Homo sapiens: one gene and its partners. The protein of the gene in region 3 interacts with the protein of the main gene of each other region in a biochemical or structural test. Each region holds a gene or a part of one and is shown on either strand. Other genes may lie near its edges.

What was found.
Region 1: the proteins of CLDN1 (region 3) and PATJ form a complex in vitro, tested with the Homo sapiens proteins (2 studies listed by BioGRID and IntAct, with this or other methods).
Region 2: the proteins of CLDN1 (region 3) and TJP3 form a complex in vitro, tested with the Homo sapiens proteins (one study listed by BioGRID).
Region 4: the proteins of CLDN1 (region 3) and TJP1 form a complex in vitro, tested with the Homo sapiens proteins (2 studies listed by BioGRID and IntAct, with this or other methods).

The regions. Positions count from the first base shown.
Region 1 is NC_000001.11:62,158,467-62,164,434, reverse strand, and holds the end of PATJ (inaD-like protein), read right to left. Parts: intron 3,528-5,968; coding exon 3,381-3,527; 3' UTR 520-3,380; downstream 1-519.
Region 2 is NC_000019.10:3,711,364-3,718,395, reverse strand, and holds part of TJP3 (tight junction protein ZO-3), read right to left. Parts: intron 1-7,032. UniProt on the Homo sapiens protein: TJP1, TJP2, and TJP3 are closely related scaffolding proteins that link tight junction (TJ) transmembrane proteins such as claudins, junctional adhesion molecules, and occludin to the actin cytoskeleton.
Region 3 is NC_000003.12:190,305,447-190,312,478, forward strand, and holds the end of CLDN1 (claudin-1), read right to left. Parts: intron 4,808-7,032; coding exon 4,723-4,807; intron 2,994-4,722; coding exon 2,831-2,993; 3' UTR 261-2,830; downstream 1-260.
Region 4 is NC_000015.10:29,700,463-29,707,494, reverse strand, and holds part of TJP1 (tight junction protein 1), read left to right. Parts: intron 1-1,749; coding exon 1,750-1,967; intron 1,968-3,189; coding exon 3,190-3,333; intron 3,334-5,805; coding exon 5,806-5,900; 3' UTR 5,901-7,032. UniProt on the Homo sapiens protein: TJP1, TJP2, and TJP3 are closely related scaffolding proteins that link tight junction (TJ) transmembrane proteins such as claudins, junctional adhesion molecules, and occludin to the actin cytoskeleton.

The DNA of each region.
Region 1 (5,968 bases), on a different chromosome or scaffold from region 3:
TCACACTCAGGAAGGGGAAACTCACACAGAGTCCACGAGTAGAGGAGAAAGAGATTCACGTTCAGGGAGGCCAGCCAAGTTGGCTAGAACATGTAGTGTCTGGAAAGGAGGGAGCTGTAGGTTGACAGAGCCATGGAGATCGCCTCTTTGTCAAATACTCACCTGCACATGCATGAAAGGGCCAGGAAAGAAACATTAGAGGTTGGCTGGGCATGGCGGCATGGATCCTGAGCCACTGCGCCCATCCTAATTTTTGTATTTTTAGTAGAGACAGGGTTTTGCCATGTTGGCCAGGCTGGTCTTGAACTCCTGACCTAGGTGATCCATCTGCCTCGGCCTCCTAACGTGTTGGGATTACAGGCGTGAGCCACCATGGATTCCAGATTTTAACAGGACACCAAAAAACCTTGTGAAAAGTTGGACTTTTTTTTTTTTTCTATTAGGGAAGAAAATGCTGAAGAAAAAGCACAATTAGATCCAGAAAGTACACTTTTTCATATATAATAAAACTCCATTTGCTCTGTAGGCAACTACATTTATTTAGAATCTTTGGAAATATCTTACACATACAAACATTCAGCAGTTTTATTCTTCCTGGCTTACTTCCCTCTCATGCTAATTCCGATTAGTGATATCATTACTATACTGAAATGGCCCAAATGATGAGGCCAAATATAAGAGCACTACTTCTTTCACAAATTTCCATCTTCATAGCCTCTCAGCTTGTCAGTAAGTTCTGAGGCAAAAATATCTTTTTGGAAAGGCAATTACGTATTAGTCATGTGAGCGGAGACAGAACCGATTATGACAAGTACTAGTTCTATCAATTTAGTGCAGTAAGAAGTATAAAGCATCATAATTCCTTCATCAATATACTTTTACTAGCACGACCTAAAAGGATAATGTATAAAGAAACACCACAACAATGTATTATCTCAAAATGTGTATTTAATGGCCATTCCATCAAAATAAAGCAGAATCCCATTTCAAAACTATTATATGTATATATATTTTTAAGGTGCATTTTCAAGTTTTATTTGGGTTTCATTTCTTCTTGGCTTGCCTGAGGTGTTCTTGCAGGTACAATTAACACAAAATGTTCTGAGGGTAGTAGCTTTTCATGCACTGAAGAATGAGATCCTAACAACATTGCACATCTTGGATACATTAGAAATTTTAAAAGCCATGTGTAATTTCAGAAAACTTAATACCGTCATGAAAGACATTTTCAACACAAAATTTAGGCACTCTATACTTTGGAATAGCCATAAAATATTCCAACAAGAGTTAATGCACTTTGTGATTACATCTACTCAAAGATAATTCTCAATTAAAATCTATACTTATTAAATAACATTTTAAATTAGAGCCCATTAAATTTTGATAATTACTGTGAAATATTTGCAGCATTGTGTTGTAGTTAAATAATGCTGAACTACTTCTATTACTGACTCTAGTACTCATCCTTCATGGTTTTTTTTCTTTTTCGAGACAGAGTCTTGCTCTGTCACCCAGGCTGGAGTGGAGTGGCACGAACTTGGCTCACTGCAACCTCCACCTCCCAGGTTCAAGCAATTTTCCTGCTTCAACCTCCGGAGTAGCTGGGATTACAGGCGCCTGCCACTGCACCCAGCTAATTTTTGTATTTTTAGTAGAGACAGGGTTTCACCATATTGGCCAGGCTGGTCTCGAACTCCTGACCTCATGATTCGCCTGCCCTGGCCTCCCAAAGTGCTGGGATTACAGGCGTGAGCCACTGCACCCGGCCATGGTACTTTTAAAAACAGAGGACTCTATAGCATCCACCAGTAAGCATCTCTCCCTTTTTCTTGCTAATATATGAATAAGATTGCCAATAATCAACTTAAAGGTATTCTTGTATTTTCTGCTGTAGTTGATTTCTTAGCATGCAAAACTTCAGCAAATGGGAGTCTCCTTGGAGATCAGGAAACATCAGCCATGCATTTTCATCACATATTCCTAGGCTCAATTCATTTGCTCACTTTGCAGCTAAGTATGTTGCTCCCTTAGGTTCTTGCAGTCCATGCTGCTGGCCTGACTACTATGGAGGTAAAGGGAAATATAATCAAATATGTCACCCACTTTGCATAAGGCCAAGGCCACCTAGACCTTGTCTGACTTGAGACAAAACTTGCTGATCTCTGCCGTGTGGTTCTGGGGCTTCTACCTCCTTTTCCTAAGACCGAGGGGTGGGAATGATGCCTGCCAACTGAAATGCCATTAATTCCAGGTGATCTTCCTGGACTTGAATGTAATTTAGCACTGTTAGAATTCAGAACATGTATGCTAGTTGTTCCTGCTGAGAATAAGGTTCATTTGCTCAGTGGTATGCATTTATATGGCACAGAAAACAATTAGTCTTTCAGAATTTTTAGAAGATTACAGTCTGTAAATTGACTCATCAAAATCACCAATGACTAGCATATAAAGATCTATCCAGAGAAATGAATTTGAGACTTATTTGACCATAAGTCATACAGAAGACAGCACAGTAATTTCCCATAGGAGAATCTGGTATTTCATCTTGGGGATCACTGGTAAATTAATTACACTGCTAATGTTTTCTTGCTTACTTGAAGAGACAATTAGCATAAGTAAATCATGAGTGAGATGACAAGTTGCTTAACATTTGTTTCTGTCCATTGGATGAGATCTGAGGTTGCTGTTAAGCCTCGGTGTGAGTAGGGGATAGGGAGAGAAGAGTATAAGGAAAGAGAAGTTAACTCCAGTTTTGGTAAATATAATCAGAACCAGTTGGTTAAAATCAGAATACTGGGCTGGGCGCAGTGGCTCACGCCTGGAATCCCAGCACTTTGGGAGGCCAAGGCAGGCAGATCACCTGAGGTCAGAAGTTCAAGACCAGCCTGGCCCACATGGGGAAGCTCCATCTCTACTAAAAAAACAAAAATAAACCCAGTGTGGTGATGCATGCCTGTAATCCCAGCTACTCGGGAGGCTGAGGCAGGAGAATCGCTCCAACCTGGGAGGCCGAGGTTGCAGTGAGCCAAGATTGCGCCATTGCACTCCAGCCTGGGTGACAGAGTGAGACTCCGTCTCAAAAAAAAAAAAAAAAAAAAAAAAAGAAATCGGAACACTGAAATTAAATGCAAAACAGGTAGACTCATTTAAGTTTTAGAAATCAACCTCGCCAACAGGTGACAGGAACTGGGAAACATTAGGAGATGATTGTTGATTTGGGAAATTCACATGAAACCTCAGCCATTTCTCCTGAGCAGAGAGGGCAAGAAATAAGAATGAAGGTGCATTTTAGTTGAGGGTGCTTTTCATACCCACTCAGAACTTCATCTGCCTGTGGATATTCTAAACAACAACATCTATCTTGTGATCAGGCCCGAGGCTCATGACAGCACAGTTAAGGTTACAGTCCCTCTCTGGTGTTTTAGAATGGCGACTGCTTGCTCATGAGTAACACCTTCCAGGGTCTCGCCATTAACAGCTAAAATCTGATCCCCTCGTTTTAATCGGCCGTCATCTGCAGCTGCTCCCTACAAACAAGAAACATTTCAGTTTAATCCAGGGTAAAACACAGTTTATATTAAATTGATATTAAAACCTCTAACATCTGTCTGGTGTGCATATTAAAAGAGTAACTTTAAAAACTACCAATTAAGTTTTTTCTAGGTAATGTTTTAAATTAGGAAAAAAGTAAGATATGCTGTTTGAATAATAATGGTTGAATAGTAACTATAATTATGGATAATCTAAATAACATACTAGTAGAAATGTACTGATACACTGCTTTTAATACAAGTAGAACCTTATTTCACTATTTAGTATTAAATGGAATTGGATGTCATATCATGTCCTATTCATGAAAACGTAATATACAGAAAAAGGCAGATAGAACTGAATCTGGTGTTAGTCTTACTGCAAATACCACCATTATACAGAGTTCCCATTGCATTATTAAGCTATCAGCACTGTGATCTGTCAAAAATAAGTGTAGTCTTTAAATGGGTGAATTGTATGGTAAGTGAATTATATCTCAATAAAGCTGTTATCTACATATAAATATATACGAGTGTAGCATCTCTAAAATTTTGTAATATATTCAAAACCTTCCACTTTATCTTTGATCATCTAAATAGGTTTCTAAATGACTACTTTTATTATATACTCAGTCATGCATAGTTCCTCAAAACGGCACAAAGCCAGTGAAACTTCAGGGTTTTTTCACTCTAAAGCTGCATATCTAAAAATGCCACGATATTACTAGAAACATTTTGGACTGGTAAGGGAAGAAAAGACCTTAAAAAATGATTTACAGGAGGTTTCACCATCTGTAGGGGTAACTGTTTCAGTCCCTTGAAAAGTCAGTGCCAGAAGAATCCTCTAAATGAGGTCAAACTTCAGTGGGCAACCAAAGCCCACAGGCACTTGGCCCTCGACCGACTCAATCAGAAGCCGAGCTAGGAGGCACTAACGCTCCTGAGATCTGTGTCCATGTGCAGCTTGGAGGTCCTGAGGTGCTGGGGAATCAGACAGGTTTTCTAAACCGTGAGAATGGTGGAATTTCTAAATGAATGTGCAATAAAGAATATTCAAAACCTGCTGGGTGCAGTGGCTCATGCCTGTAATCCCAGCACTTTGGGAATCTCAGGCGAGAGGATTGCTTGAGCTCAGGAGTTTGAGACCAGCCTGGGCAACATGGTGAAACTGTCTCTACAAAAAATTAGCCAGGCGTGGTGGCTTATGCCTGTGGTCCCAGCTCCTCGGGAGGCTGAGGCAGGAGGATCACTTGAACCTGCAGAGGTTGGAGTGAGCTGAGATAGTGCCACTGCACTCCAGACTGGGTGACAGAGTGAGCTCTGTCTCAGGAAAAAAAAAAAAAAAAAAAGTATTCGAAATCAGGTCTATACTGTGGGCAAAATATCAAAACTAAATATTAATAACTTGCAACTGGCTGGACATGGTGGCTCATGCCTGTAATCCCAGCACTTTGGGTGGTCAAGGCAGGAGGATCACCTGAAATCAGGAGTTCAAGATCAGACTGGCCAACATGGTGAAATCCTGTCTCTACTAAAAATACAAAAATTAGCTGGATGTGATGGCGCATGCCTGTAATCCCAGCTACTTGGGAGGCTGAGGCTGGAGAATCACTTGAACCTGGGAGGCGGAGGTTGCAGTGAGCTGAGATCATCCCATTGCACTCAGCCTGGGCAAAAAGAGTAAACTCTGTCTCAAAAATAAACCCCAAAACTTGCAACTTCACTCAAATCTTTTAAGAAAGTAATGTGTCAACTGTATTAAAGACAAAATTAAACAAGTAATTTTACTGGATAAAATCAGAATTACTAGGCAAAGTTGATTTTATTAAATTTTACATGCTAAGATTTAAGGGCTTCAGTAAATCTCAGATATCTGTGTAAATTAATTTTTTAAAAACTATGTTAAGCTATTTATCTTTTTTAGTAATGCAAGGAAAGAATTTTTAAATTTTTTTGAGAAGGAGTTTCACTCTTGTCGCCCAGGCTGGAGTGCAATGGTGCGATCTCGGTTCACTGCAAACTCCACCTCCCAGGTTCAAGCGATTCTCCTGCCTCAGCCTCCCAAGTAGTTGGTATTACAGGCGTCTGCCACCAGGCCCGGCTAATTTTTGTATTTTTAGTAGAAACAGAGTTTCACTATGTTGGCCAAGCTGGTCTCGAACTCTTTTTTTTTGTTTTTTTTTTGAGACAGAGTCTCGCTCTGTCGCCCAGGCTGGAATGCAGTGGTGCAATCTCGGCTCACTGCAAGCTCTGCCTCGCCGGTTCACACCATTCTCCTGCCTCAGCCTCCCGAGTAGCTGGGACTACAGGCGCCCGCCACCACGCCTGGCTAATTTTTTGTATTTTTAGTAGAGACGGAGTTTTTTACCGTGTTAGCCAGGATGGTCTCAATCTCCTGACCTCGTGATCCGCCCACCTTGGCCTCCCAAAGTGCTGGG
Region 2 (7,032 bases), on a different chromosome or scaffold from region 3:
AAATAAGAGGCTTGGCCAGGAACAGTGGCTCACGCTTGTAGTCCCAGCACTTTGGAAGGCCGAGGCGGGAGGATCTCTTGAGGCCAGGAGAGACCAGCCTGAGTAACAGAGTGAGACTTCCATCTCTACACACACACAGACACACACACACACACACACACACACACACACACACACACACACTTTTTTTTTTTTTTTTTTTTTGAGTTGGAGTCTCGCCCTGTTGCCCAGGCGCAATCTCAGCTCACTGCAAGCTCTGCTTCCCGGGTTCACGCCATTCTCCTGCCTCAGCCTCCCGAGTAGCTGGGACTACAGGCACATGCCCGGCTGATTTTTGTACTTTTAGTAGAGATGGGGTTTCACCGTGTTAGCCAGGATGGTCTCAAACTCCTGACCTTGTGATCCGCCCCCCTCGGCCTCCCTAAGTGCTGGGATTATAGGCGTGAGCCATCGTGCCCGGCCTTTTTTTTTTTTTTTAATTAGCCAGTCTTGGTGGCACTTGCCTGTACTCCCAGCTACTTGGGAAGCTGAGCTGGGAGGATTGCTTGAGCCCAGGCGGTGGAGGCTGCAGTAAGTCATGGTCACACCACTGTACTCTCATTCCTGGGCAACACAGTGAGACCCCCATCTCCACATCCACAAAAATTTTTAAAAATATCTTAGGCAGGGTGCAGTGGCTCATGCCTGTCATCCCAGCACTCTGGGAGGCCAAGGCAGGAGGATCACTTGAGTCAGGAGTTGGAGGCCAGCCTGGCCCACAGGGCAAAACCCATCTCTACAAAAATACGAAAAATTAGCCAAGGATGGTGGCAGGCGCCTGTAATCCCAGCTACTCAGGAGGCTGAGGCAAGAGAATCACTTGACCCTGGGAGGCGGCGGTTGCAGTGAGCTGAGATCACGCCACTGCACTCCAGCCTGGGTGACAGGGCAGACAGCACAACACTATGTTTCAAAAAAAAATAAAATTATATATATATATATATATATATAAGCTATGGCTGGGCACAGTGGCTCACGCCTGTAATCCCACTTTGGATGGCCAAGGCGGCCGAATCACTTGAGGTCAGGAGTTTGAGACCAGCCTGGCCAACATGGTGAAACTCTGTCTGTACTAAAAATATAACAGTCATGGGCCAGGCGTGGTGGCTCGTGCCTGTAATCCCAGCACTTTGGGAGGTCGAGGCGGGCGGATCACCTGAGGTTGGGAGTTCGAGACCAGCCTGACCAACATGGAGAAACCTCGTCTCTACTAAAAATACAAAATTAGCTGGGTGTGGTGGCACATGCCTGTAATCCCAGCTACTAGAGAGGCTGAGGCAAGAGAATTGCTTGAGCCCGGGAGGCGGAGGTTGCAGTGAGCCGAAATCGGGCCATTGCACTCCAGCCTGGGCAACAAGAGCGAAACTCCGTCTCAAAAAAAAAAAAAAAAGTCACCTGGGCGTGTTGGCACCCGCCTGTAATCCCAGGTACTCGGGAGGCTGAGGCAGGAGAATCACTTGAACCTGGGAGGCAGAGGGTGCAGTGAGCCGAGATCGTGCCACTGTCTCCAACCTGGGCGACAGACTGAGACTCTGTTTCAAAAAAAAAAAAAAAATATATATATATATATATATATGTATGAGCTGGGTGTGGTAGCAGGCACCTCTAGGCGCTGAAGTGGGAGGATCATTTGAGCCCAGGAGGTCGAGGCTGCAGTGATCCATGATCTTGCCCTTGCACTCCAGCCTGGGTGACAGAGCTAGACGCTGTCTCAAAAATAAATAAAGAAATAAGTGGGTTAAAGTCCTAGCAGTGAATGGGGCTCCCGGGCCATGTTTACTGGCATATGCTTGGCTGCAGCCCCAGTTACACACAACACTCGTGCGCCCACTTTGCAGCTGAGAAAACTGAGGCCAGATGGTGAGCTGGCCTGAGGGATTTGGCTGCAGCTCTGTTTGCCCCTGCACCTCGAACTCCAAGCCAGTGCCTCTCACCAGAGGGGGACCCTTGGCAACGTCTTGAGACATTTTGGTGTTCAATACCAGGCCGAGCGCGGTGACTCACACCTGTAATTCCAGCACTTTGAGAGGCTGAGATGGGCGGATCACTTGAGGTCAATAGTTCGAGAGCAGCCTGGCCAACAGGGTGAAACCCCGTCTCTACTCAAAATACAGAAATTAGCTGGGCGTAGTGACAGGCACCTGTAATCCCTGCTACTCGGGAGGCTGAGGCAGGAGAATCACTTGAACCCGGGAGGCAGAGGTCGCAGTGATCTGAGATGGCGCCACTGCACTCCAGCCTGGGCAATGGAGCAAGACTCCATCTCAAAAATAAAACAAGTCGGGCGTGGTGGCTCACGCCTGTAATCCCAGCACTTCGGGAGGCTGAGGTGGGTGGATCACGTGAGGTCAGGAGTTCGAGACCAGCCTGGCCAACATGGGGAAACCCCATCTCTACTAAAAATACAAAAATTAGCCGAGTGTGGTGGTGGGTGCCTGTAATCCCAGCTACTCGGGAGGCCGAGGCAGGAGAGTTGCTTGAACCCAGGAGGCAGAGGCTGTAGTGAGCCGAGATTGCGCCATTGCACTCCAGCCTGGATGACAAGAGCGAGACTCCAACTCAAAAAAATAAAATAAAATGAAACAATAAAAAAATAAACCTGGAAGGTTCTCCTGGCATGAGTGAGTGGAGGCCAGGGATACTGCTAAGCACCCTGCATTGCCCAGAATGGCCCCATCCCAGAGAAGGATCTGGCCCCAAATGTCAATGGGCAACGCAGAGAAATCCCACTGTCAACCCCTCTAAGAGAGGAAGCTGGATAACTGCACCAGGACACATTGTCTTCCTCCAACCACCCACCGTCTGCTCTCATATCCATGCCCTGCTCAAGAACACTCGATGGCTCCCTAGTACCATCCTCCAAACCTGGGTTCAAATCCAAGGCTTTGGAGATGGGCATAGCCTTAAGCCCCTTATTCCCACCACCCCTGACCTTCGGATCACCTTAATGAATTAAAAACCTGCTTTTGGCCGGGCGCGGTGGCTCACACCTGTAATCCCAGCACTTTGGGAGGCCGAGGCGGGCGGATCACGAGGTCAGGAGATCGAGACCATCCTGGATAACACGGTGAAACCCCATCTCTACTAAAAATACAAAAATATAGCTGGGTGTGGTGGCGGGCGCCTGTAGTCCCAGCTACTCGGGAGGCTGAGGCAGGAGAATGGCGTGAACCCGGGAGGCGGAGGTTGCAGTGAGCCGAGATTGCGCCACTGCGCTCCAGCCTGGGCGACAGAGCGAGACTCCATCTCAAAAAAAAAAAAAACCAACCAACCAAACAAACAAACAAAAAACCTGGTTTTCTACTGTTGCCTCACGAAGTAAAAATAATAATAGCAAAAAGAAAAGGAAAAAAAGAGAAAATCTGCTTTTCAGCAATCTACTTCATTTGTGCCTTAATTCTTCTGTGCATTCAGTCACTCAGTCAACAAAACTGTTGCAAGCCAAGTATATGACGTGTGATTGGGAACCAGCGTTCAGGGCCAGTGTGATCTGAGCAGGGTGAGGGACAGGAGGACCCAGGGAAGGTGGAGTTCTGGAGGCCTCCCTGGGATGAGCCAGCTCAACCCCTTCTGAGTGCTTGTGGGAAAACTGAGGCCCAGAGATAGCAGGGGCTGGGCTGAGGTCCCCCAGTGGATCAGGGCCAGGATGGTCTCGAACTCTGACCTCGTGATCCGCCCGCCTTGGCCTCCCAAAGTGCTGGGATTACAGGTGTGTGCCACTGCGCCTGGCCTAATTGTACTTTTTAGTTACATATGCGATTATTCAATTATTGTCTGTCTCCCCTAAAGACTGTGGGCTTCCACTGTGTCTGTCAATCAGTTCTTCTGCAGCCCCATCACTGTGTATGCAGTACGTGCTCAATAAATACTAAAAGAACGGGCTGGGCGCGGTGGCTCACATCTGTAATCCCAGCACTTTGGGAGGCCAACGCGGGTGGATCACGAGGTCGGGAGTTTGAGACCAGCCTGGCCAAGATGGTGAAACCCTGTCTCTACTAAAAATACTAAAATTAGCCAAGCGTAGTGGCACGTGCCTGTAATCCCAGCTACTCAGGGGGCTGAGGCAGGATCATGAGGTCAGGAGTTTGAGACCAACCAGGCCAAGATGATGAAACCCTGTCTCTACTAAAAATACAAAAATTAGCCGGGTGTGGCGGCGGGCTGCTGTAATCCCTGCTACTCAGGAGGCTGAGGCAGGAGAATCTCTTGAACCGGGAGGCAGAGGTTGCAGTGAGCCAAGATTGCGCCACTGCACTCCAGCCAGCCTGGGTGACAGAGAGAGACTCTGTCTCAAAACAACAACAAAGAAATTAAATAATAGTAATAATAATAGGCCGGGCGTGGTGGTTCACCCCTGTAATCCCAGCACTTTGGGAGGCCGAGACAGGTGGATCACGAGGTCAAGAGATGGAGACCATCCTGGCCAACACGGTGAAACTCCGTCTCTACTAAAAATACAAAAAAAAAAAAAAAATTAGCTGGGCATGTTGGCGGGCGCCTGTAGTCCCAGCTACTCGGGAGGCTGAGGCAGGAGAATCACTTCAACCTGGGAGGCGGAGGTTGCAGTGAGCCGAGATCGTGCCACTGCACTCCAGAGCCTGGGCGACAGAGCGAGACTCTGTCTCAAAAAAAGAAATAAATAAATAATAATAATAATTTTAAAGTTACAGAAAAGTAAATACACAGAGAATTCCTTTATACACCCAACTGATTTCCACTAACATTAACATTATTACACGGGTACATATGTCAAAACCAAGAAGTCAACATCAGTACAACCTTGTTCACTGAACTCCACACTTTATTCACGTCTCTCCGCAGGCCCTTTGCCGCCCCAGGGCCCCATCCAGGATCCCACCTGGTAGTTGGCTGTCACGTCTCCTTAGACACCGCTGGGCTGTGACCGATTCTGTCTTTCCTGTTCTGTGACCTGTTAGTCTGTGCTGGGCAGGTCTTTTGCAGAATAACTCTCAATGTGGGGACATTGGGGACCAGCTGTTTCCCTCATGACTAGACTGGCGTCATGGGTTTTGGGGGACCCTGGGAGGTTTTAAGGAAGCCGTGTGGAGAGGACGGGGCAGGAGCAGAGACAGAGAGCAGAGATGGAGGGCAGCCAGGTGGGAGGAGACGCCCCGGTCTGTGGGTTGCCAAGATCCAAACGACCTTTGAGGAAGGGCAGATTCTAGGTGTGGCCGGCTCAGCCCTAAGGCACTGGAGGGCTGAAGAACGTCTCAGGGTTTGGCGTCCTGGGGAGGCTGGAGGACCTCATGGGGGGCACTTTGAAGTAGGACTCATGGGGGGCACTTTGAAGTAGGAGGAGTGTGGAACCTGCTAGAAGCTTGGAGTATGGAATGCAGCTCAGGGTGTTCAACAGGGGACTTTCTTTTCTTTTCTTTTTTTTTTTTTTGAGACAGAGTCTTGCTCTGTCACCTAGGCTGGAGTGCAGTGGTGCAATCATAGCTCACTGCAGCCTCCACTTTCCTGGGCTCAAGCGATCCTCCCACCCCAGCCTCCTGTGTAGCTGGGGCCACAGGTGCACGCCACCCTGCCCAGCAGATTTTTGTATATTTTGTAGAGACGGTATCTCGCTATGTTGCCCGGACCTGTCTTGAACTGCTGGGCTCATGCGATCCTCCCACCTCGGCCTCCCAAAATGTTGGGATTCCAGGCGGGAGCCACCAAGCCATGCCAAAGATGCCATTTCCCCCAAAAGGGAGGACGGCTGAGCTCTAGAAGGAAGTTCCACAGCAGAGAGAGAAAAGCAGAGCCCATGTGAATTCCAGCCCCTGCCTCAGCTTCCTCATCTGTAAAACGGGGATCCCGGTTTTGACCCTGAGCAGTATTTCAGGGAAGGCTCAAAGGTTTAAGCATCTGCCACTAAGGATCCCCTGGGCTGCCTCTCCATGCTTCTAACTCCACTCGGGCCCCCAGTGGGAAAGCCAAAGGTGAATTACAGTGTCCCAGGGCTAGAGGGGGCCCCCTGCCCCATGGAAACCATCTACGCTAAGGTGCTGTCATTCTGGGCACGGAATGACATTTTTGAGATGGAGTCTTGCTCTGTCTCTGGGGCTGGAGTGCAGTGGTGCGATCCCGGCTCACTGCAACCTCTGCCTCCCAGGTTCAAGCAATTCTCCTGCCTCAGCCTCCCAAGTAGCTGGAATTATAGGCACACGCCAACACACCTGGCTAATTTTTGTATTTTTAGTAGAGACAGAGTTTCACCACGTTTGCCAGGCTGGTCTCAAACTCCTGGGCTCAAGTGACCCACCTGCCTTGGCCTCCCAAAATGCTGGGATTACAGGCGTGAGCCACCGTGTCTGGTCCAGAGGAGAACTGAAAGAACACACACACACAGGCAATCAAGAATGCTGAGGCCGGGTCGGTGGCTCTCGCTTGAAATCCCAGCACTTTGAGTGGCTGAGGCTGGCAGATCACTTGAGCCCAGAAGCTCGAGACCAGGCCGGCCAACACAGCAAAACCCCATTTCTATTTTCAATTTTTAAAAAAAAGAAAGAAAGGAAACAAATTAATTCCCCTCTGTATAGGCTATAAAGTCTTACCGGTTCCCATATTAATTAATGAATTAAGCAGACACATAAAGCACCTTTTTTTTTTTTTTTGTACTTTTAGTAGAGACAGGGTTTCACCATGTTAGCCAGGCTGGTCTTGAACTCCTGACCTCGTGATCCACCCGTCTCGGCCTCCCAAAGTGCTGGGATTACAGGCGTGAGCCACCGCATCCGGCCTCATTTTGTATTTGTATGAGAGTAATGATTTTACTATTTTGGGAAAAAATATCCTTTAATATCATAAAGCCAAATGTCTTCAGGCCAGCATTTAAAGCTCTCCCTTCATTTTGGCCGGACGCGGTGGCTCACGCCTGTAATCCCAGCACTTTGGGAGGCCGAGGCGAGCGAATCACCTGAGATCAGGAGTTCGAGACCAGCCTGACCAATACGGTGAAACCCTGTCTCTACTAAAAATACAAAAATT
Region 3 (7,032 bases):
TGTATGTCCCCTTTTTATAGATGAGAAAAAGTATTAAGTAACATCTCCTGGCATCCTCTTCTATTACCACCCTTGATGAGGAACTCAATTTGAGAGAAATAGGGCATTCTAGTGGGTGGAGCCACTCAAATTTGATAGATGGGCCAGAGGCATCATAGTTCTTTCCCAGGATCATGGTGAGTCAGATCCTGTCCCAAGCCACCTCCTCTACCAAGAATGGCAATCTTGCAATAAATGATTAGAAAACAAGCCAATAATCCTTTTTTTAAATTAAAAAACAATTTATTGAAAAAGAGTAATGCTTTATACAAATTCCTATTATAAAACCCCAAAATGTCTATTGGTCTGTTTCCAGGTGTGGTAGAAGAATATAAAAAGATCAAAATTGGATAAATTCTATTGTAACAATTTCGTTGGTCATTTTGGGCCATAAAATTTTTTTGTAATGTTTGGTAACTGATATCCACATGGAATTACACTCACACATCATGAAGATCTATGTATGTGGCAAAAGCCATTTAAATTTTAACTTCCAAAAGCATATATTCTCAGGTTTGGAAGGCACACTAAAATTTATTAGGTCCAATTCCTCATAAGACACAGTGGCTGACTTTCCTTGTGTAGTTTATTATGAAGTACCATTTCCAAACTAACTATCCTAGCAGCGTCAGCTGCCAGCTAACAGCAAGAGCTCTGAGGGCATCACTGAACAGATAGCACCTTATGAGTTATTATGATTCAAAAATCTCCCTTGCTGTTGGATTTACCAACACGTAGGCTTTTATTTCTTCCCATTACATCTGTTTAGCCACAGAAAGCATCGGGCCATACTCACTGCAGAAGATAAGACTTCCTCAGAATCTTATTTGTTTAGTGCACTCAATTTTACTTCACTGTCTCATCACTTGAGAGACTGGTTAAGGCAAGAAACCCATTTCTTAACATTTTTTTTGTTTTCAAACATTTGAAAAGCAACACCAAAACGTATGCAGTTAATTCCTCAATTCTTTCCCTTAGTATAGCACTTTTTAAATTACAAAACCACACTTACATGTATTCTATCTCACTGGATCCCCACAACATCACTGTGAGGTGGGAAGATCAGGAATTACAAACCACCGCTTACAGATGAAGCAATAAGCTTACAGCAGCCAAATGCCTTGCTCAAACACAGACGGTGATTGATAGCACCAAGACTCAAATCCAGGTCTCCAGACACCAATGCCAACACCCTTTCCATTACATCATCTTGCTCAAGTGAAATAGCATTCTGTACAGACTGGAAAAGTAAGAGCAGTTGTTAAAATGGAACAGAGCACAAACATGTCAGACACAGCTGAAAGAATGGAAATAGACTGGTAGAGAGAGGAAGGCACTGAGCCACATGAAGGTATGTGCGTAGGTTTTGTTCAGTGGAAATAGACTGGTAGAGAGAGGAAGGCACTGAACCACATGAAGGTATGTGTGTAGGTTTTGTTCAGTGGAAATAGACTGGTAGAGAGAGGAAGGCAGTGAATCACATGAAGGTACGTGTGTAGGTTTTGTTCAGTGACTTCTTCAGTGTCTCAGCCAGCTGAGCAAATAAAGACACTACATAGGCATAGTTCATGTTCAAAGAATGAGAGTAATATAAACTAATTAATATTCACACTACCTCTTCTAACTGGTTAAGTATCATTATCTCAATTTGGCAGATAGAAAAAAGAGGTAGAAAGATTAAGTGACTTGCTTACAGCTACAGAGAGAATATTTGTCACCAGATTATCACTCCAGAAAGTCTAGCACTTTGTTCAGACAAACAGACCACACCTTATTAGGAAGATATAAAACGCATGATAATTACACTTGGGAAAACAATACAATTAAGGAATGGGGAACAAAAAGGTAGTTTAGGGGGATATAAAACTATGAATAAGTAGCTTAAAAATTCAATCAATAAAGTTGTGTTACAACACCTGGGGGAACAGCATGCAGCTACTCAATTGGACAAATATTTTCAAAGCAAACAAGAGTGCTATGGGTCAGAGTACAGGGATTGTGTGGGAAGGTCAACAGGAATTTATCACTTTGGTCATGCAGAAAGATTTGCCTCCAAAGTTCTGATTTGTAATAAATTCTTCTTGGCTTTAGAAACTAAAATGTAGGCTATGAAATGTGTTAGATTCAGGAGATAGAGACCAATGAAACACAAAACAAATAAGGGCTTAATAACGATGCAAGTGCTATAAGATTATGGTAAAAAATAAAATAAGTATATGAAAAGGGCACGCATGAAGAATTGAAAGAATTCATCCTTGGTAAATTAGGCTAGGTCTTGTGGCAAAGGCACCCAAAGCTAATGAAGAAGAGTAAATGATATTTGACTGTTACATATGTATATATAGACGAAAAAGAAAATATACCAATAAACATCTTCATCAATATGGAATTAAATACATTTACCTATTTTAGAGATATTTTAAGTATGCTAGTATCAACATAATGAGAATAGTATTTTACTGTCTATTTTTAATAGAAAAACATGTATATATACATATCTATATATATTTAAGGAGCACCCCTTCCCCCAGTTGAGTATGATTACTCAATGGGAAGCAGTAATACAAATGGAAAAATCTTCCCTCCTATATTGAGGAAAGAAGATAAAATAAGATTAAGCCATGTTTAGCACTGAGTATTTTAACACATGGGTTTTTTGTTTGTTTGTTTGTTTTGTAATACCATACTTCAGATTACAATACCCAAAATTCTAAGGTCCTAATGTTAATGATAGTATCTCAATGTCCATTTTCGGTTTGTTTCAACATGATTTTCTCCTTTTGCCTCTGTGTCACACGTAGTCTTTCCCGCTGGAAGGTGCAGGTTTTGGATAGGGCCTTGGTGTTGGGTAAGAGGTTGTTTTTCGGGGACAGGAACAGCAAAGTAGGGCACCTCCCAGAAGGCAGAGAGAAGCAGCAGCCCAGCCAGTGAAGAGAGCCTGACCAAATTCGTACCTAAAAGGAAAAACCCATGTGCTTGTTAATCAGTGAATTATTGGCAACTTTTCTAATATAATAAAAGGAAAAAAAATCAATACTCATTGTATTTTTTTCATTGAAAATAACCCCTGAATATCCCTTGGGAAGTACTTTAAGATTTCTGAACATACACGCCAAAGAATGTTTATATTGCAATTGGTGACAATTTGCAATAGTAGATCAGGAAATAACACATGTAATACCAGGTTAATTACACAAATAATTCCAAGGACTTTTCCATATATAGGATACTTGTAAAGCATGTTTATATGTTTTAGAAGTAGGGTTTGGATCATGGTTCCTAGGCTGAAACTTAGCAAAGGAAGCTTTATCACTAAGTAGTAATCATATTCTATAAAGAAACTGATAGAGCATAATGGAGATAATCAGAGCTTTGAACAGATGATCCATTGGTCCCAGGCACCTATACAATCTGAAATCCAAATCTTATGGTTTTGTAAAGAAAAGTTCTAAGCAGCCCATGAACCATTCTGGATTAAGCTGATCCAGGCAGATGTATTAAAGCAGACACTTAGGGTGGGGTATCTGTGAGTGATTATGGACAATACGGAAGAGTAGAGAAGGGTTGGTTCTATAAGTTATAAGGCCAAGTCTAAATCCTGATGCAGACTCTCAACTGCTGCAATTCTGGGATAGCAACTTCACCTCTCAGCCTCAGTTTCTCCTACTCTCAAAGCAGGATAATCCCACCTGCCTCAATAGACTGCTTTTAGGATCACATGCAATAATGTAAATAACAATTGCAAAATGGCTGGCAATTTATAAAGTGCTTTCCTGTGCATTACTGGTGTTATTACCTTGGCGAAATTTTAGCCTACTGACCTCTAGCAGTTTCTATTCTTACACTGTAAATCTTATGGGATGGGCTCCAACACAACCATTGCAGTATGTGTTCTCCCATATGTGGGTGATTATATAAAAAGAAACACATCTTATCTCTCCAAACACTGAGGTTTTTCATCCATTCATCTAAGCACTCAACAAACAATAATTATATTTTAACATCCTGACTGAATGTAGTTATTAGGCATTAAAGATGTGAAGACAGTGAGATGAAGAGCCTCGTCTCTGATTAAAGAATGTTGTTACACGAGAGCTAAGAATCAGCTCAACTTGCACAACCTGCAGTATTAAGAAAGATGACCTTTGTAAAGCCAATTTTACAGTTGTGAAAGAACAAAAAATTTCAAGGTGGTATCTGAACATACTAAAAACATACATAATAGCTTTACGTGTAAAAATGAACTGTTGGGAATGAAGTATTATTCATTAACCCCTATAGTAGTATAATTTTTCTCAATCAATCATAAACTGTGCATTAGTTACAAATAATCTTAGGTAGGTGTTGTAAACATCAGAATACACTTCAAAAAGGAAATTTCAAATATATTAACATCTTTATTAATATTTGAAAAAACAAACAAAAGAAAGCCCAGTTATACAGTTGAAAAGCACAGAGCTTGAAACTTTTCTACTTTGGAAGGTATTTTGTCATCAATACAGGGTGTTAAAGCAATTATCAAACTCATTTTGACATAAGTCAGAGATCATTTAAATTGTTTGTAGGTTTGACATAAAATTCTTGAAAGCAAATCTGGGAAATGATGGCACTAGCAGGACTTTGTAGAATATAAAAAGGGCATTTTCTCAGAAAACAAACTATTTTACGCCTGAATAGCGTTACCTGGCATTGACTGGGGTCATAGGGTCATAGAATTCTTGAACGATTCTATTGCCATACCATGCTGTGGCAACTAAAATAGCCAGACCTATAGAAATTCAAAACAAAAGACTGTTAATCACCATGGAACACTGAGCCTAAATACACAACCTGTTAAACCAAAACATATTTTGCAAGAATTAAATCTCATCAATAGTGTTGACATTTTTATTTTGGTATTAGGGAGATTAGAAGTCCAGATATGATTTATTCCAAGTATCTATTAAAATATAAAAAAATACTAGGTTGGCATTAGACAAAATTTATACTTTTTTATGATATCTTGGCACAAATAATTCTTTTTTGGAAACAATTAGGCAGGTGTATGTTGTACAAAATCTCTTTTAAATATGCTGTTATACATTAGGATACTAAACTACATTTGATAAAACTATTGTCATTATTAGTACAGGTAGAATTACTTGCAAAAGGGGAAGATGAAAACTCTTCTATGTTCTTGATCAAACTCAAAATTTACATTTCTGCAGAGTCAAAAGGAATGCAAGCAGCTAGATAGAGTGAGATCAGGACATGTCTCAGAATGGACCAGAATACCTGCATTACTACTGCCCCATTGGCCAAGGGAATACCTGATATAGGTATAGGTTGGCCTGAGATTTGTTGAGGGTGCCACATCAGATCAATTTATGCAACCCAATCTCAATTTCCCATGGCATTTTATATTCAATGATAGCAGAGAAATCATTTAGTCAAAATCATTCACTTAATCATTTATAAGATGTATAAAATACTTCATTTTTTTATCAAAAAAGTTAAATAACTTTTTTGTAGTAATTCTAAGTATTCATCAATATAGATAGATTAGATGTTTCTATGCTACTGTCTCTCCCCAGCCAAAAACATGGTCCAATGTAATTGCCTCTAGACATGACAGAAAACACTATTGCTTTTGGCTTCTCAAATAGACCATGCGAATGGTCTTGAACTTGTGATGCTTACTCCTAAGAGAAGTCCCTGAAACTGGAATAGGAGTGATGCAGTCACATGTGGGAGTTACAAGAAGGCAAGCGAAGGAAGAATGCAATGCATTTCATCCTCATCGTCTTCCAAGCACTTCATACACTTCATGCCACGATGGCCACAAAGATTACTATTCGCAGCCTTTGATATAAGAGTAAATTATTGGGAATAAGACACTATCCATGCCTTTTCAGAGAGGAGTCAATTTGTATTTGGGTAAACTGAGAGACTGGTCATTTTAAACTAACCACATCTTTAGCAAAGCCACAGATACTCTTCCTCAATTACTGGTTAAACTGACATATTATACTGAAGCAAAAGCCCCTACAAGTCTTCTGTCAAAAAGAAAATAAGAAAATAAAGTCTATTCTAGTTTTTTTCTATTAGTAGATTTGTATCATTAATTATATCTGTTATTTTTTTAAAATAATATACTATAATATACTACATATATAATATATGCATCTAATACCTAATATAGAGAACATATAGTAGTCTATTATTATAGCTGTATAATTTATATGGAGATTATCAACATATATAACACAGTGTATAGATATAAAGATATATATATACACACAGAGAGATTGCATATGTATGTACATATACACACGTAAGTATACATACACTATAATTTTTTAAATAGGCATTATTATAAAGCTTTGAAATAATGCTGTCCATGTTTTCTGACTTTGATTTTCTCAAATGACACATAATGTAACTTATCAATCAACACTTGAATTAAAAAACAGATATTTCTTTTCTTTTCTTTTTTCTTTTTTTTTTAGACAGTCTTCTGTTGCTTAGGCTGGAGTGCAGTGGTGCGATCTCGGCTCCCGAGTTGAGGTGATTCTCATGCCTCAGCCTCTGGAGTATATGGGATTACAGGCGTGCACCACCACACCCAGCTAATTTTTGTGTTTTCAGTAGAGATGGGGTTTCACCATGTTGGCCAGGCTGGTCTTGAACTCACGACCTCAGGTGATCCGCCCTCCTCAGCCTCCAAAAGTGCTGGGATTACAGGCGTGAACCACCACACCTGGCCTAAAAAACACGTATTTATTTTAAATGGAAAATATAATATTATTTTATCAAAAAAATTTAAAGGTATTTCTGTATTTTTTTTTTCCTAACTGCTTTAAACTGACCATTCCAACAGGCCACCTCTACTCCAGTTGGCCTTTCTTTTCATTGATCTACAGGCACATCCTGTTTATTCTCGAATTAGATCTGCCCAGCTGGAATGCTATCCTTATTTTTCTCCAATAATCCCAATCCTTCCATCCCTCACAG
Region 4 (7,032 bases), on a different chromosome or scaffold from region 3:
GCGGTCACTGCCTTCCTAGCTCTGCACATCCACAGATGGTCAGGGGCGGACAGAGCTGGCCTCTGCTCTGCAGCTCAGGCTGCGCTCTGCTCCCTTGATGTTGTGTCGTAGGATGTCGTCCCTGGCACTCCGGTCATGCTGGAGTGAAACGGCAGCTACCTTCATGTAATTCTGTTTCGTTGGTCTTTCTGCTCACCTTTGAGCCCTGGCTCAAAACTGTACTTTCAGGAAGTTGATAGCCTCTACTTTTGAAGCAGTCATTGATACCACATCCCCTTTGCCTTTGGCGTTCTGTGATTACTAAGTTAATCTACTGTCTCTCTTTCGTGGATGTTTGGGATATGCCCATACAAGGGTCTTCGCCTCATGGAACCTTGGAAGCCTTGCCTCCTACAGCCAGAGCGGGCGCTTGGTCCTCAGGGAATGCTGAGGCAGGACCATACTCAGGCACACTTAAAATCCTAGGGAGATTTTATCAAGTCTGAGATGCTGTCAGCCGTGAGATGCACCATTGTTTTGTGTCACTAAAAATGGAAGAACAGCCAGGCACGGTGGCTCATGCCTCTAATCCCAGCACTTTCGGAGGTTGAGGCGGGCGGATCACTGGAAGTCAGGAGTTCCATCCTGGCCAACACGGTGAAAACCCATGTCTACTAAAAATACAAAAATTAGCCGGGCATGGTGGCAGACGCCTGTAATCCTAGCTACTCAGAAGCTGAGGCAGGAAAATTGCTTGAACCTGGGAGGTGGAGGTTGCAGTGAGCCAAGATTGCACCGCTGTACTCTAGCCTGGGTGACAGCAAGACACTCCATTTCAAAAAACAACAGGAAGGGAAGAACAGGGCTACCAATTAAATTGTGACTTACCAGTTTTAAAGTTCCAATTTCATGGATTTTAAAATGTGCTTCATAAAACTCTGTACCTGTTTAGTATCCCTTGTCCAAACTTCTTGGGTTCTGAAGTGTCTCATATCTTGGGTTTTTTTGGATTTTGGAATATTGCCAAAATGCTCCAATGAGCATTTCCTTTGAGCTTCATTTTGACACTCAAAAAAAAGTTTCCGATTTTGGAGCATTTCAGATTTTCAGGTTAGGGATGCTTCACCTGTAGTTGGGTGTTCAAGGCATCAGATTTTACACTTTCAGGTTGCAATTCATTAATGAAGGTCGTTTGACTAATTGCCTTCAAAAATTGAATTTTTGACATTTCTCTAGAATTTTTGAAATTTTCTAGAATGGAATTTCTCTAGAAATAATATTCTCGCCAGGCGCGGTGGCTCACGCCTGTAACCTCAGCACTTTGGGAGACCAAGGCAGGTGGATCACGACGAGATCAGGAGTTTGAGACCAGCCCGGCCAATATGGTGAAACCCCATCTCTACTAAAAATACAAAAATTAGCCAGGCTTGGTGGCGTGCGCCTGTAGTCCCAGCTACATGGGAGGCTGAGGCAGAAAAATCACTTGAACCTGGGAGATGGAGGTTGCAGTGAACCAAGATTGTGCCACTGCACTCCAGCCTGGGCGACAGAGTGAGACTCTGTCTCAAAACCAAACAAACAAACAAAAAAGAAATAATATTCTCTGCGATAACCCTGTCAGTAAAATCTGTTGCCAGAAACTTATCTTGTTAAAGTAACTTCTTGATTATATGGAGAAATAAAAGTGAAAGCACGTAATACAGTAGTAGTAAAAGCAAAGCACCTGTGTATTATTAGGAATTCACTCACTAGCCATTTCTGAACTTTCAGTCCTTCAGCTGTGGAAGAGGATGAAGATGAAGATGGTCATACTGTGGTGGCCACAGCCCGAGGCATATTTAACAGCAATGGGGGCGTGCTGAGTTCCATAGAAACTGGTGTTAGTATAATTATCCCTCAAGGAGCCATTCCCGAAGGAGTTGAGCAGGAAATCTATTTCAAGGTCTGCCGGGACAACAGCATCCTTCCACCTTTAGATAAAGAGAAAGGTAAATGTGTTTATTTTTCTCCTTAGTTTTGATAACTTAAGAGTTGCCCTGTGTGCACTTCAGAGCTTATAGTGCTTGGCTAATAATGCAGCACCTCTCTATCTCCAGATGAGTGCTGTAGCGAGGGGTGCCCTGGGGACGGTGTTGCAAGCAAGCAGTGGGTGGCCTGAAGCAAGGCTGTGGTGACCACACTGCCTGCTTTTACTTTTGGTGTGAAATAAAAAATGATGGCATAGGACAGGCCACGGGATGTCTCACCTGCTGAGCAGCCTAGGCTGACCTAACCAAATTTGTCTTTGAATCAGTCAGCCTTTGCGTCTCTGGAGATGGGTTAGGTAACACCCACTCAGAAAGGCTTTGCTGTGCCTTCACCTGATTGGAGAACCTAAACCTCTTGACAGGTACTGTCTTATTCATCACCCCAGAACCTAGCACTAGTACATGCTCAGCAGAGTGCATGAAGGAGTCTCAGAGGAGATGACAGCATGTTTCTGAGCTTCTTAAGGAAACTTATTTTCATAATCCTCCTGGATCTACCAGGATATTATAACGAAGTGTGTTGTGATTTAGCATCTTTTAGCAGTGCTTTTACTTCCTAAACAAATTTAGTTCGCTTTTTTGTATTTTGCCGGAATACTGACATCTGATTCTGTACTCTGATTTTGGGGATATCCTGTTTTAAAAACCAGTAGGACTGACTGTGTTGGCCCTGCATGAATCTCTTTAACCACCTATGGAGCAAACAAAACATTTTGAAAATGGAAAATATATCACATTCGCAACAAGCACATTTGAATATGTTTTTTATTATAGACCCATATGATTGAATGCAGTAGCCACTGCCTGCACGTGGCTAGCTAGCACTTGAAGTGTGACAATTTGGGATTGAAAGATGCTGGAAATGTGAAATACACACCAAGTTCCAAAGATTTCATATATTGATTACATGTTGAAATAACAGTGTTTTCGTTATATTGAGTTAAAATATTAAAATATTGTAAGATTTGATATCACTTGTTTCTTTTTACTTTCTAACGTGGCTACTGGGAAATTTAAGATTCCATATGTGGCTGCTGTTACGTTTTTTTGTGGTCAGTGCGACTGTAGAGAACTAACTCCATTAGGCTTTCAAGCATATAATTAGAAGCAGGGTGAGGAAAACTGGGATTCTAGAAGAAAGACCACATCCATCCTCTCTGCCTATCCCCTTTTCCAACTCCAGGTGAAACACTGCTGAGTCCTTTGGTGATGTGTGGTCCCCATGGCCTCAAGTTCCTGAAGCCTGTGGAGCTGCGCTTACCACACTGTGCGTCCATGACTCCTGACGGTTGGTCTTTTGCTCTAAAATCATCCGACTCCTCGTCGGGTATGCTGTCTTCACTCTGTCCTTTGGGAGCTTTGGGGACTGTCGTTGATTAATACCTGGGCTGATGATGCTGCCCATGCTGTGTGTTAGCAAATCTCTATCTCTGTTCCTGTGGCCTTGTAGGCATCACCAGTGTTTTCACATTTATTTGTGGTGCATATATTGTAAATAAATATGGAAAGGTAGAAGACTTTCTGCCTTTTAAAAATTGATAATTTGGGCCGGGCGCCGTGGCTCATGCCTGTAATCGCAGCACTTTGGGAGGCTGAGGCAAGTGGATTACCTGAGGTCAGGAGTTCAAGACCAGCCTGACCAACATGGTGAAACCCCATCTCTACTAAAAATACAAAAATTAGCCAGGCGTGGTGGCACACACCTGTAATCCCAGCTACTCGGGAGGCTGAGGCAGGAGAATTGCTTGAGCCAGGGAGGCGGAGATTGCAGTGAGCCAAGATCGTGCCACTGCACTCCAGCCTGGGCAACAGAGCGAGACCGTCTCAAAAAAATTTTTTTTTGATAATATGGCCAAATATTGACTATTTCTTGGTGTTCAGAAAAATGATTTATTCTGTCAAATTTTTCAGGATGCAGTGGGAGATATTGTCCTGCACAAATAGGCATTTTTACCTTATTAAAATGACTTTGTTCCTTTATATAACTATTTCTATTTTTGGTTACTATTGTTTAATTTATTTTTTGTTTGTTTGTTTTGATTTGGTTTTTTGAGGTGGAGTCTCGCTCTGTCGCCCAGGCTGGAATGCGGTGGCACGATCTCAGCTCACTGCAACCTTCGCCTCCCAGCTTCAAGCGATTCTCCTGCCTCAGCCTCGATTACAGGTGCCCACCACCATGCCTGGCTAATTTTTGTACTTTTAGTAGAGACGGGGTTTCACCATGTTGGCCAGGCTGGTTCGAACTCCTGACTTAAAGTGATCCACCCGCCTCGGCCTCCCAGAGTGCTGGGATTACAGGTGTGAGCCACCGTGCCTGGCCTGTTTAATTTCTTAATCTACAACGTATGTATACCAGAGAAACTTAACAAGATCTTCCGTTGTGATCATACTTGGCCATGGTTTTTCAGTGTAATACTCTAAATTACTTCTTTTATACACTATTTGTAAATGACTTTTTCTCCTGAGATAATTTCAAAGCTTCCACTGCATTTTCACATTTCTCACTTCCTTGAGTGACTTAAGTCAGTTAATAATTAGAATTTTATTTTGGGTGTAGATCACTTTAAGCGAACCTGATTTAAAGTCTAGCTTCCAAATCTTTGATAAATCAGATGAGCATTATTTAGTTTTAGTTTGGTACAGTATGAAATAAAAGTTTGTGGTCTAAAGATTATAGCAAGAGCATATTTTAATGTTATCAGAGGAAAAAATTACATGTAAATACATATTTCCTCATATTTACAAGTACCCCATTTTCTGGAAAAATGAAATGCTTTTGGCTCCAGATATTGCTTAGGTAATGTCTAACGTACTGTAAGCAAAGTTCTCAGCTGGCACTGTTGACATTTTGGCCAAATGATTGTTGTAGGGCCCTCCTGTTCGTCGTGGAATATTTAGCAGCTTCCCTGGGCCTCTACCCCTAGATGCCAGTGGTAACAAGCAAAACTGTCTCCAGATGTCCCATCAGGGGCAGGGTCATTCCTGTTTGAGAGCTACTTCTGTAAGGGAAGCAAACGTCCACAGCTGTGACTCTCAGCTTGCTTGGACACCACAGAGACATATAGTCGTCCCTGCCTTCACATCTAATAGAAATCACCAAGAGCTTATTAAAAACTTAAATCCTGAGACCTAACTAACACCCAGTCAATGAGTTTTTGAAGCTGCATGATTAATTTTGTTGTCCAGCTGGAATCAGAGCTGAGCAGCTCTGGTGCAGTCTCGTTTTTTTGCTTGTTTTTTGTAAGGGGGAAGACAGTCTTCAAGAACTAGATTCTGCAGAACTGGGCTTCATTTGTTGGTTTATAGTTGAGTGTGAGAAATGTGTCCTCATTCTCAGCTCAAATAGGTGATCACATAATTATCCTCCAGACTTTCGAAACTGGAAAAAAAAAAAAAGTGCTACTGATAATTATGTGGGCTCTGGCAAACTGGGACTGTCCCAGGCATAAGATTGCCATCACTCACTTGTATTCATTTTTTGAAAAGGCCAATGCACTTGATAATGTAATAAAGGAGAAGTCTGAAAATTAAAAACAAAAAACAAAAAACTGTTCTTAATGGTGTGAGTTAGAAAGAACGTTTTAAAAAAAATTTTTTTAGAAGTGTGAAACACCTTTGGAATTGTTAGATGCCAGCAGATCTGCTTTGAAATACAGCAATGTGTTTTGATACAAATTCAATATGCTGAAGAAACAGAAGAAAATTATGTCTAAATATACGTATTTGCCCTATAATTGCAAAGCATTACGGATAGCAGTTTACTGAACTGTAAATGACATCAACTTCTTTTCTCTCATAGGTGATCCTAAAACCTGGCAAAACAAGTGTCTTCCCGGAGATCCAAATTATCTCGTTGGAGCAAACTGTGTTTCTGTCCTTATTGACCACTTTTAACTCTTGAAATATAGGAACTTAAATAATGTGAAACTGGATTAAACTTAATCTAAATGGAACCACTCTATCAAGTATTATACCTTTTTTAGAGTTGATACTACAGTTTGTTAGTATGAGGCATTTGTTTGAACTGATAAAGATGAGTGAGCATGCCCCTGAACCATGGTCGGAAAACATGCTACACACTGCATGTTTGTGATTGACGGGACTGTTGGTATTGGCTAGAGGTTCAAAGATATTTTGCTTTGTGATTTTTGTAATTTTTTTATCGTCACTGCTTAACTTCACATATTGATTTCCGTTAAAATACCAGCCAGTAAATGGGGGTGCATTTGAGGTCTGTTCTTTCCAAAGTACACTGTTTCAAACTTTACTATGGCCCTGGCCTAGCATACGTACACATTTTATTTTATTATGCATGAAGTAATATGCACACATTTTTTAAATGCACCTGGAATATATAACCAGTGTTGTGGATTTAACAGAAATGTACAGCAAGGAGATTTACAACTGGGGGAGGGTGAAGTGAAGACAATGACTTACTGTACATGAAAACACATTTTTCTTAGGGAAGGATACAAAAGCATGTGAGACTGGTTCCATGGCCTCTTCAGATCTCTAACTTCACCATATTACCACAGACATACTAACCAGCAGAAATGCCTTACCCTCATGTTCTTAATTCTTAGCTCATTCTCCTTGTGTTACTAAGTTTTTATGGCTTTTGTGCATTATCTAGATACTGTATCATGACAAAGACTGAGTACGTTGTGCATTTGGTGGTTTCAGAAATGTGTTATCACCCAGAAGAAAATAGTGGTGTGATTTGGGGATATTTTTTTCTTTTCTTTTCTTTTCTTTTTTTTTTTTTTTGACAAGGGGCAGTGGTGGTTTTCTGTTCTTTCTGGCTATGCATTTGAAAATTTTGATGTTTTAAGGATGCTTGTACATAATGCGTGCATACCACTTTTGTTCTTGGTTTGTAAATTAACTTTTATAAACTTTACCTTTTTTATACATAAACAAGACCACGTTTCTAAAGGCTACCTTTGTATTCTCTCCTGTACCTCTTGAGCCTTGAACTTTGACCTCTGCAGCAATAAAGCAGCGTTTCTATGACACATGCAAGGTC